3 linked regions of the Homo sapiens genome follow. The protein of the gene in region 1 interacts with the protein of each later gene in a biochemical or structural test. Each region holds a gene or a part of one and is shown on either strand. Other genes may lie near its edges. The genes, in order: KCTD17, CUL3 and TCHP.

Evidence for each region.
Region 2: the proteins of KCTD17 (region 1) and CUL3 form a complex in vitro, tested with the Homo sapiens proteins (3 studies listed by BioGRID).
Region 3: the proteins of KCTD17 (region 1) and TCHP form a complex in vitro, tested with the Homo sapiens proteins (one study listed by BioGRID).

The regions. Positions count from the first base shown.
Region 1 is NC_000022.11:37,049,497-37,053,244, reverse strand, and holds the start of KCTD17 (BTB/POZ domain-containing protein KCTD17), read right to left. Parts: upstream 1,504-3,748; 5' UTR 1,485-1,503; coding exon 1,296-1,484; intron 146-1,295; coding exon 37-145; intron 1-36. UniProt on the Homo sapiens protein: Substrate-adapter for CUL3-RING ubiquitin ligase complexes which mediates the ubiquitination and subsequent proteasomal degradation of TCHP, a protein involved in ciliogenesis down-regulation.
Region 2 is NC_000002.12:224,473,764-224,477,511, reverse strand, and holds part of CUL3 (cullin-3), read left to right. Parts: intron 1-3,135; coding exon 3,136-3,267; 3' UTR 3,268-3,748. UniProt on the Homo sapiens protein: Core component of multiple cullin-RING-based BCR (BTB-CUL3-RBX1) E3 ubiquitin-protein ligase complexes which mediate the ubiquitination and subsequent proteasomal degradation of target proteins.
Region 3 is NC_000012.12:109,898,684-109,902,431, reverse strand, and holds the start of TCHP (trichoplein keratin filament-binding protein), read right to left. Parts: upstream 2,159-3,748; 5' UTR 2,006-2,158; intron 1,856-2,005; exon of another isoform or gene 1,373-1,855; intron 1-1,372. UniProt on the Homo sapiens protein: Tumor suppressor which has the ability to inhibit cell growth and be pro-apoptotic during cell stress. Inhibits cell growth in bladder and prostate cancer cells by a down-regulation of HSPB1 by inhibiting its phosphorylation.

The sequences.
Region 1 (3,748 bases):
GCATAAGGTCCAGGCCAGCCCCCTGGACCAACTCACCCTCCTCAGCCATGTCCTTGTCCAGCACCAGCTTGCCATGCCGGAGGAAGTTCAGGATGGGCCCGAAGTAGGTGGGGTCACGGTCAATGAGGTAGGCCCCGGTCTCATCCTATGGAGGTGAGGGATGCTCGGTGAGAGAAGAGTGAGGCTTCTCCCCAGCCAACCCCGCACACGCACAGGGAGGGAAGGAGAGTGGAGGGAGAGCTCTTCCCTGGATGGAGCAGGCACAAAGTAGCAAAAAGGCACTGGGGTCAGATGGACCTGAGTTCAAGCCCTGCTTCTGACTCTTCCTGAATGTGTGACCTTAGGCTAATGATTTGGCCTCTTTGAAACTCACTCCTCTCCCCCTAATCAGGGTTTGCTGTGAGCATCCGGTGAGAGGATGTCTGAGTGGCAACTGGCCCAGCACAGGGCTCGAAGAATGTCCCTCTGAGAGGCTGTCCCCTGAAGCCAGCCCCACTGTCGCCCCCAGGTCCCTAGGCTTTCAGGGGATGTTTACAAGTTTCCAAAGGAGTCACTATCTCACTGGACACTCGGGCGGGCAGGGAGGCAGGGTGGGCTTCCATGCGACTCTACAGAGAGATCGGAGACATTGAGAGGTGAGGCGACTTGCCAAAGGCCACAGCATCGGAGGGTCACGGATGGGGGACAGGAGACCTTAGAGGTCATCTTCAGACCAGCCCTTCGTGTTACAGATGAGGAAGGAGGCTGAGCGCAGTGCAGGGAAGGGTCCGACTCAAGGTCGCGGCAGGCAGTGTGCAGCAGAGTCAGGGTGGGTGCTCAGAAATAGTGCCCGCTGGGCCAACGCTCCTTCTAGATTCAGCCCGCTCAGAAGGCGCCCCAGGGCTCCTCCATCCAGCTAGCTCCCTGCACCCCTCCGCCACCCACATCCCAAAGAGCGGGAGAAGTAGCCTCGTCGACTCCTTCCCCAGAGCAGGAGTCCCCTTTGGGAGGGAGGAAAGGTCCCAGGTCTCTCCCTGTCCACAGCCCCAAAGGAGAAGGAGAGGCCCCGATCCGGGGCGGCTGGAGAGCTTCTAATGGCCGCGGCCTGCGTCGTCCCGTTGCCACGGCAATGGGTACATCCCTCACTACCAGACCCACCTCCCCCTCCCCTCCTCCTGCCGCTTCTTCCCGCCTCCAGTTCCTCGGAAATGAACCCGGCCGGGTCCCCAGCCTGGCGGGCGAGCCAGGCCCGACAGCCCCGCGTCGGGCGAGCGGAGGACCCACCGCCCGCTCGCCGCCCACCCCGGGGGCCTCACCCGGTCCGACTGCAGCTCTTCCCCCTGGCACAGGCGGCTGAGGAAGGACTTCTGCTCGCGGCACAGCGTCTGCCGGGTGGTCAGGAACACCGTGCCCCCCACGTTGAGCCGCACCCACTTGCCCCAGCCGCCTGCGGCGCGGCCGCCCGCCCCCGCCGGCGGCGCTGCCTCCCCGGCCTCCATCCTCATCGCCGGCCGCGGCGTCTGCATCCTCCTCCCGGGCGCTGGGGGCGGGCGGGGACCGCACGCGGGGCAGGCCGGGAGCTGTAGTCCGCGCCTCCTGGCTCCGCGTGGGCCGCGGGTAGGGTCCCGCCCCGCGCTGCTCCCGCCCCCGGTCCCGCCCCGCTTCGCCCTTCCCCGCAGGCCCGCAGTCTGGGGTGGTGAAGATGCCCTCTGGCCAAATCACTGTGTATGGGGAAGGTCGAACTCCCGGCCTCTGGGAAAAGAATGAGGGCTTCCCCAAATCTGCAGTCATCCCATGGGTCCGAGCATTCTTGTTTTTCCTTTGTGCCGTCTCCGTCGTCCAACAGCTGATAAGGGAAGAAACTTTCCCCTCCAGGAATCCCCATAGCATTGACCCGCATGTGTTTCGTCATATTTTTTCATTTGCCCTTTGTGTGTATAGGGGTGGGGGCGGGGTGGGTGGGAGTGGGTTCTTTCCCTCACCTGAGTTCTTGGAGAACGACATAGCTGGACTTGAGGTTGGCTGAGCACCTGTATGCCAGACACTTTGTGTATATGTGTTATGAATTTAAGCTCTCAGCAGCCCTGTGAGTCTGGTATTTTGGGCTATACCCATTTTACAGATGAAGCCACAGAAGCGAAGTGACCGCCCTACTCACATTGCTGGTGAGTGAGTACCCACCAAGGTCTCTTTCCTGCTCCCTGACCATGGAATGTCAGGGATCCTTGGGAAAGACTTCTAAGGAGGAAGAGTAGAGCACGCCCTGGATCCGAGTCAGGAGAACTGAGTTTCCATTCTGGCTTTTGGCCTTTCTCAGTTTTTCCACGTCCTCCCTAAGAAGGAGGAGGGATTGGTTCTGCGGGTGGCTTTCTGAGTTATTCCCCAGTTAACTCGGAGGGGAACCGTCATTCTGTGGACCTCAGGATGGGGGAAGGGAGCAGTTCCTCATGTGGTCCGGGACCAGGGAGGGACAAGGGCTGACGAGGAAGCTGTCTCCTTAGCTTCCTCTCCTTACTGGTTTCAGTCCTGGTCCTGGCCTATGGGGGAGAGGTCTGGGGCTCCTCTCACTGATCCAATGTCACACGCAGCTGGCCCGAACACTGGGCAGCCTGGCCCTGTGCTGGGAGAAGTTTCCCTGTTACCACCCAATGCCCTGCTTTCTGCATAAAGCTTTTCTCCTTGGCAGGGAGTGGATCAAAGGTGTACTGGAATCCTGCTACTTAAAATTCACTAGGTGTGTCCTGAGCAACTTCCTCTCTGAGATTGGCTTTCTCTCTTGCCAAATGGGATTTACAACAGTTGTGACCCCAGAGCATTGCTGTGAAGATTAAGTTATGAAATGTCTATAAACATCTAGCGTAGGCTGGGTGCGGTGGCTCACACCTGTAATCCCAGCACTTTGGGAGGCCAAGGCTCGCTTGAGCATAGAAGTTCAAGACCAGCCTGGACAGCATAGTGAGACCCCTATCTCTCTCTCTCTCTCTCTCTCTCTCTCTCTCTCTCTCTTTTTCTTTTTTGAGATACAGTCTCACTCTCTCACCCAGACTGGAGTGCAGTGGCACCATCTCAGCTCACTGCAACCTCTGCCTTCTGGGTTCAAGCAATTCTCATGCCTCAGCCTCCTGAGTAGCTGGGATGACAGGCATGCACCACCACGCCTGGCTAATTTTTGTATTTTTAGTAGAGATAGGGTTTCACCACGTTGGCCAGGCTGGTTTTGAACTCCTGAGCTCAAGTGATCCTCCTACTTTGGCCTCCCAAAGTGCTGGGATTACAGGTGCGAGCCACTGCGCCTGGCCCCCATCTCTATTTTAAAAAAATAAAACGATAGAAAACCAAAAAACAGCCGGTGGCTCACGCCTGTAATCCTAGCATTTTGGGAGGCCGAGGCAGGCAGATCACAAGGTCAGGAGTTCGAGACCAGCCTGGCCAACATGGTGAAACCCCTTCTCTACTAAAAATACAAAAATTAGCCGGGCATGGTGGCTCACGCCTGTAGTTCCAGCTACTCAGGAAGCTAAGGCAGGAGAATCACTTGAACCCGGGAGGTAGAGGTTGCAGTGAGCCAAGATCATGCCATTGCACTCCAACCTGGGTGACAGAGTGAGACTCCGTCAAAGAAAGAGAGAGAGAGAGGAAAGGAAGGAGGGAGGGAGGGAAAGAAAGAGGGAGGGAAGGAGGAAGGAAGGAAGGAAGGAAGGGAGGGAGGAAAGAAAGAAAACAAAAAAAAACACCTAGCACAGTCCCTGGCATTTACTATGTTGAATGC
Region 2 (3,748 bases), on another chromosome or scaffold:
ATGAGGGCTAGAAGTTGCATTGGGAATTAGCTATATGAGAATGCAGTTAAAACTACAGGTGTGGATTAAATTGCTCAGTGTTAGCATGGAGAGCAAGAAAGAACTATGGGATAGACCCCTCCCTTATTTTAGGAACAGTGAGTGTAACAACAGAAACTCTTTAGAGCACTGGTTTTCACAGTGTGGTTCTTGGAACAGCTACCTTAGCATCACCTGGGAACTCATGAGAAACACAGATCCTTAGGTTCCACCAGAGCCTGAGAATTGAATCAGAAACTCTGAGGATAGGGCCCAAGAGTCTGGTTTTTTAACACGAGCTGTAGGTGATTCTGATGTTTTTTCAAATTTGAGAACACTGCTTTAGAAGGAAAAGAAAACAAAATGACAGTGTCCTATGACAAGGGAAGAGAATTACAAGGAGTGAGTGGTCAGTAATATAAAAAATCATGGAAAAACCAAGTTGAATAAACACTTTGGCAATTACGTGACAGGTTAACTTTCTCAGACATTTTCATTGGACTCGTGAAAGTGGATATCCAGTGGTAGTGCCTTGAGAAGGAAATGGAGGTGGAAACCACCAAGAGTGGCTTATTCTTTGAGGTACTGGCTCAAGGGAAAGGGCAGAGAGAGTAGTATTAGAGGATTCAGTGTAGAGTTGAAGGGTTTGGGCTTTTTCCCCCCCAAAATGGGAGGATACTGAGCATGTTTATATCCTATGAATAAAGAATGGATCCTTAAATTGAAAAAAATGAGATGAAGGGATAAATACCACATTCTAGAAAAGGAAAGGTGAGGATTGTATAGAGAGTATGATGATGGTAGTGTACTGACACAGATGTTACTGAACATGCCTCTTCCTGAGAACCTAGGGCAGGGTGCAGGGGTATGTGCTAAGCAAGATTTGGTGTAAGTATGGATAAATGTACATGTGTAGGGTGGGTATTTAAAGAACTTCAAATTGAAATGGCTTCTTTTCTCTATGTGAAACCCGATATGAGCTTGGTGCAGGACTGGGTTGAGGAGTTTAAGGGGATTGTCAGAAATTTGAAATAATACTTGTCGAAGAATGGTGCTCAGGAACTTGCTGAACTTTTGAATACTATAAATTTGTGTTAGTCTACACCAGAGATTGGCAGATGTTTTTGTAAATGGCCAATTGTAGCATGAAAGCAGCTATAGATAATACATAAATGCGTGTGACTCGCGGTGGCTCACGCCTGTAATCCCAGCACCTTGGGAGGCCAAGGTGGGCGGATCACCTGCGGTCAGGAGTTCAAGACCAGCCTGACAAACACAGCGAAACCCCGTCCTACTGAAAATACAAAAATTAGCTGGTGGTGGGTGCCTGTAATCCCAACTACTCGGGAGGCTGAGGCAGGAGAATTGCTTGAAGCTGGGAGGCGAAGGTTGCAGTGAGCCGAGATCGTGCCATTGTACTCCACCCTGGGCGACAGAGCGAGACTCCATCTCAAAAAAAAAAACTAATAAAAAATAAATAAATACATGTGACTGTGTTTCAGTAAAATTTTACAGAAACAGGTAGTGGGGTGTATTTGGCCTGTGACTGCAGTTTGCTGACTCCTGGTGTACACATACGGTGTTAACAACTACATCTTTACTCAGCAAAGACCTCTGTGGTAGGTTGATAATGATGTAGTACATATAGAATATAGGTTTAATCAAATAGTGTTTATGGGATAGGACCAAAAGAATCAGGAGTAGAAGGTCCTGTTGAGAGTGCAGCTTTCAAGAGAAGTGATCTTGAATGCAGTTTAGGCTCGGTTAAACAGGGGAGGGAGCAAGTCGATAGGAGCTGTTAATAGGCTGGAAGAAAAGAAGGGCAAAGGGTGGGAGATCTCAGGTGATGGGTTGAGAGCAAGTTTGTCGATACAGGAGTGGTAATCCTGGAAGGGCGATAAATTGTAGTTGCAGAATGAAGTGCTGAATTTTCAGATTCCAAAGAATTATCAATCCATTGTGGCTTTGGGAAATGAACTGATCAACAAGAGTAAAAGCAAAGCTGGCTCATGGATGCATTAGAGCAAAGAACATGGACTTTGAGGTCAGAAAGGTTTAGATTCATCTCTGTTGGCTCTGTTATTTACTACTTGTTGATGTCAGTTTTCTTCTCCGGCTTTATTTTCCTCGTTTGTAAAATGAGACAACTTATTTTGCAGGGTTAAGAACATTAAATAGGCCGGGCACGGTGGCTCACGCCTGTAATCCCAGCACTTTGGGAGGCCGAGGCAGGCAGATCACAAGGTCAGGAGATCGAGACCATCCTGGCTAACATGATGAAACCCCGTCTCTACTAAAAGTACAAAAAATTAGCCGGGTGTGGTGGTGGGCGCCTGTAGTCCCAGCTACTCAGGAGGCTGAGGCAGGAGAATGGTGGGAACCTGGGAGGCGGAGCTTGCAGTGAGCGGAGATTGCGCCGCTGCACTCCAGCCTGGGCAACAGAGCAAGACTCGATCTCAAAAAAGAAAAAATAAATTAAATAAACTCATACATGCAAAATGACAGATGAATAGTGCATAGACAGACTATGACTGCTGCTTTAGTTATTATTTTATTATTATATATAGCACAGTACTTAGAATCCTGATAGTACTTGGAAAAAACCAACAGAAGCACTTACTATGATTGGGCAGCATTATTCTTTATTCTAAGGCGTTACATCTGTTAACACATTTAGTGTACACACCAGTGGGCCAAGGTCCCAGAGCTAGTAGTGGTAGAGCTGAGTTTATCCAGGTACTCTGAGTCCGGAGTTTGTGTTCTTTAATACATAGGCTACCCAAGTTCTGTGAGTTTTGAGTATAACTCAGAATTCAGTAGATAACAGCATCAAAACGGTTAAACTATAGGTGGCATATGCTCACACTACTGTAATTCCAACTAATTCAATTATTCAACTGCTATCCACTTTAGCATTCACATTCTGATTTGAGGAAGTGTGTTGTAACCATAATATTACATTTTCAAACAGAACCTTTTTAAAGTTTCTGTGCTTTTATCTTTGGTAATCCAGTTAGTAAAGTTCAGTCTCTGAGTGTTAAAATGACATATCAGTTCTGTTCAAAGATACGAATTTTTATGTGTTTATATAAAAATACTATCTACTTTCTTTTTTAGGTAACTCAGCAGTTGAAGGCGCGATTCTTACCAAGTCCAGTTGTTATTAAGAAACGTATTGAAGGACTTATTGAGAGAGAATATTTGGCACGAACACCTGAGGATCGCAAAGTATACACATATGTAGCATAAAATGCGTTCAGAAATTTGATTTATTCTTGGACTGTACTCTTCGCATGGACTGGGAAGTTCTTTTAAATCATTAAATATTAAGACGACCATCTCTTCTATTAAATTACAGTACATGTTCTAGACCATTGAGATCAAGCCTTTACTCCCTTTGAGAGTTTCCAACATCAGTTGATTGAGCTTCAGGCTTTACAACGTTTATCCCTGTAGAGATCATCTTTACAGTTCCTCGGGAAAATGTGAATGTGCTGCGTTTTGTTTTCTTTACTGTATGAAAACAGGAAAATAAAAGAGAAATTTAGAAAATACAGCTCATTACAATAAAATTGTTGGATTTCATTTCCCCAGGTCTTCAGTGTTGATGTAAATGTGTTTTGTAGTGTTGCTTAGCACTTTGCGCATTGTGTAAGTTGGGTAACAAAAATGGCAAAAGAAATGCAGATTTCCCAGTTATCTTGCTCTGAAGACATTTCTTTAGCTAGTC
Region 3 (3,748 bases), on another chromosome or scaffold:
CCCAACACTTTGGGTGGCTGAGGCAGGAGGATCACTTGAGGCCGGGAGTTGGAGACCAGCCACATCATGAGACTCATCTCTATAAAAAATCAAAAATTAGCCAGGAGTGGTGGTGCGCCTGTAGTCCCAGCTACTCAGGAGGCTGAGGCAGGAGGATTGCTTGAGCCCAGGAGGTCACGGCTGTAGCGAGCCATGATAGCGCCACTGCACTCAGCCTGGGTGACAGTGAGACTCTGTCTCAAAAAAACAAAAACATAAAAAATTCTGGACTGCGTGCACCCAGCTGTGGGCCAGCCATCACCAGGAACACAACAGACAGACACAGGGATTGTCCTAAGATTGCTAGACTAGGCACATCGGGGGCATTTATGCTGTGCTTAAACAGAGACAATAATGTAAGGAACACATGTATGTGCCAAGCACTCAATACATATGACTTTTTTTCATTCTTACAATCACCTCGCTATTTGGCAGGTAAGGAAACTTACGTTGAAGAGGTAAAGTTGTTGTACCCGAGCGAGTTAGAGAAACGCCACAGTTTGAGACGAAATTAAGAGTCCTTTATTTAGCCAGTGCCCAAGAGACGGCTAATAAATTCTCTTGGCCCGAGGAAGGGGCTTGATTTTCCTTTATACTTTGGTTTAGGAAGGGGAGGGGAGCTCAGATGCAACAATTCTACATAAGTAAAAACATGCAAAAATTAAAAGGACAAAGAGTCACAGAGAAACAATTAAAAGACAAATGGTTACAGAGAAACAACAGTTCCAGGTGCAGGGGCTCTAAATCTTTCATAAAATGTTAGATATGGGTGCTCTGCCCGACACCAACTCAAGGTTTTATGGTGTTATCTTTTGAGCAAAATCCTGGGAACTTCGTACATTGCTTGTTTCAGTACCTTATCAGTTAATTGGACTCTTTGATATGTTGAGATTCTGCTTACACAAGTTAACTCCTTGAGGAAAGGGGTGGGTAAGGAGTCCTTGATGTCTTGTAAATGAGGGAACCAGATGGAGTTCATCCGGCTTTCTCAACTAAGGGAGAGCTAATTCATGTGGAAACAAGGCTAGGTGATTAAGGGGAAAAAAAGAGTCTAAAAGCAAGGTTAGTAAAAACAAGGTAAGGCATTAAAAAACAAGGTTAGTAAAAACAACGTTAAGCATTACAAAGTGATTTGCTCAGGATCACAGAGCCAGGAAGTAAAGGAGATAAACAAGCTGGGTTCCTAATTCATGTCCGTCTGAGACCAGAGCCCAGGCTCTCTCTGCTGCAAGGGGCTGCCTGTTGGGACCAACCTGCCCTGGCTCTGGCAGTCCCCGGGGAGGGGACTGATAATAACACTCGGAAGTATGTTGGGCTACCATGGAGGACAGACCTTTCATCTTGCAGATGAAGAAGCTGAGACCTAGAGAGAGGAATTGCCTGAGCAATGTAGGGATACAGCTGGAGCCTTGAAAGCAGAGAGCAGTCTCACTCCAGGCACCAATTCCCCTGACCCAAAAGCTGTCCTCAAGTGTAGGGTCGATGCAGTGCCTGGGTAGGAACGCCGGCTGAATGAGCGAAAAGGCCTGGTGCACGCCAAGAATCTCATTCTGGAGGTCCTCCAGTTTTGGGGGCAAACACTCTGCGTCTATGGTCCAAATGTAGCCGGCAGGCTGCTAACGTGTGACCTCGGTCTCGAGACCGTGGCAAGCTTCACATACTTTTTTCCCGCTCCCGTAAAGCCGCCAGTGGATCAGTCTTTGCACCAAGAGTTAAAAGTTTAAGATTCCCGTCCCGGATTGGCCACCCACAAGGTGGGCTGCTCCCCGAACACGTCGCATCCCTCTCTCGACCTGAACATGCACGTGCAACAAATGGGGTCACAGCGCGTGGGGAGCGCAGTGAGGACCCCGGAGGCGCCCTGAGCTCGCGCCCGCTGACTGCCGCCCCGGTTCCCGCCCGCGCGGGCCGCCTGCGGGCCCCCGCCCTAACGCCGGATCCGGCCTAGTCCAACCCTCCGACTCACATTTCTCTGAGGCTCGGAGTTTCCGAAGAGTCCCCCGGCCCGACTTCCCGCAGGCACGAAGCGGGCCGGCCAGTCCCCCGGTGTAATTCCCAGACGCGCTACAGCAACGCCGGCTGTTTCCTCCCTGTTTGCACCGGCAACGAGCCCGACGACGGAGCGTCGCAAGGGCCAAGCCTCCTTCAGCGCGTAGGGAGCCTGTGTTTTTCTCTGGTGCCCCGTCGTGGCCAGCGGGAGATAAATAGCAAACGTCGCTGCTCCTTGAAATAGGGAAGCATGGAGGCAAAGAATCCGTCCATGCACTACACGTATTTCAGGATGGTGGTTACCATCACGTGAAGGTGAAGGTGGAAACCAGGGGGAAGAGAATGTAAGTCAGTGGTCCTCAAACCTGGCTGCGCGTGAGAATCACCAGATACCAGCCTGGGCAACACAGAGGGACTCCTGTCTCTAAAAAATTTTTTAAACTTAACCGGGCATGGTGGGACTTGTGGTCCCAGCTACTCGGGAGACTGAGGCGGGAGGATCAGTTGAGCCCAGGAGATCGAGGCTGCCGTGAGCCATGACTGTGCCACTGCACTCCAGCCTGGGTGACAGAGCCAGACACTGTCTCAAAAAAAAGAAGAAAAAATCCAGATACCTTTAAAAAATCCAGATGCCCAAACCAAACCCCAAATCCCATCTGAGAGTATCAGTGTTTTCCAAAATTCCCCAGGTGTGTTCAATGTACAACTTGGGCAGAGGCCTGCTGGCATAAGTAGATGGAAGTTATTGGTAACTTTTTTATTTTTTTGAGACAGAGTCTTGCTCTGTCGCCAGGCTGGAGTGCAGTGGCGTGATCTCGATTCACTGCAACCTCCGCCTTACGGGTTCAAGCGATTACCCTGCCTCAGCCTACCGAGTAGCTGAGACTACAGGCGCACGCCACCACGCCCAGCTAATTTTTTGTATTTTAGTAGAGATGGGGTTTCACCATATTGGTCAGGATGGTCTCGATCTCCTGACCTCGTGATGCGCCTGCCTCAGGCTCCCAAAGTGCTAGGATTACAGGAGTGAGCCACTGCACCCGGCCGATAACTTTCTATTATAGTCTTATATTGGTGGTGAGTTCAAAAGTGTTCATTCTATTAGTATGTTTTATAACTCGTGTGCTACAAGTATTACATGCCAACTATTCCATTAAAAAGAAAATGAAGAAAAATACTTGTTTGTTCTCTTTTCTTTCATTTTCCCATTCTTTCATTTCTTCTTCCCTTCATTTCTCCATTCTTTATTCATCTCTGTTTTTCCTGGATGCAGCATCATGGCCTCAGCTGGGTTCAGTGGCTTACGCCTGTAATCCCAGCACTTTGGGAGGCCCAGGAGGGTGGATTACCTGAGGTCAGGAGTTGAAGACCAGCCTGGCCAACATGATGAAACCCCGTCTCTGCTAAAAATACAAAAATTAGCCGGGCATGATGGCAGATGCTTATACTCCCAGCTACTCGGGAGGCTGAGGCAGGAGAATCGCTTGAACCTGGGAGGCAGAGGTTGCAGTGAGCCAAGATTGCGCTGCTGCACTCCAGCCTGGGTGACAAAGTGAGACTCCACCTCCAAATTAAATAAATAAATGAATACATAAATAAATAAATAAAATTAGCAGGCTGTGGTGGTGCACACCTATAGTCCTAGCAACTTGGGAGGCTGAGGTGGGAGGATCACTTGAGCTCAGGACAAGGAGGCTGCAGTGAGCCGTGATCACACCAT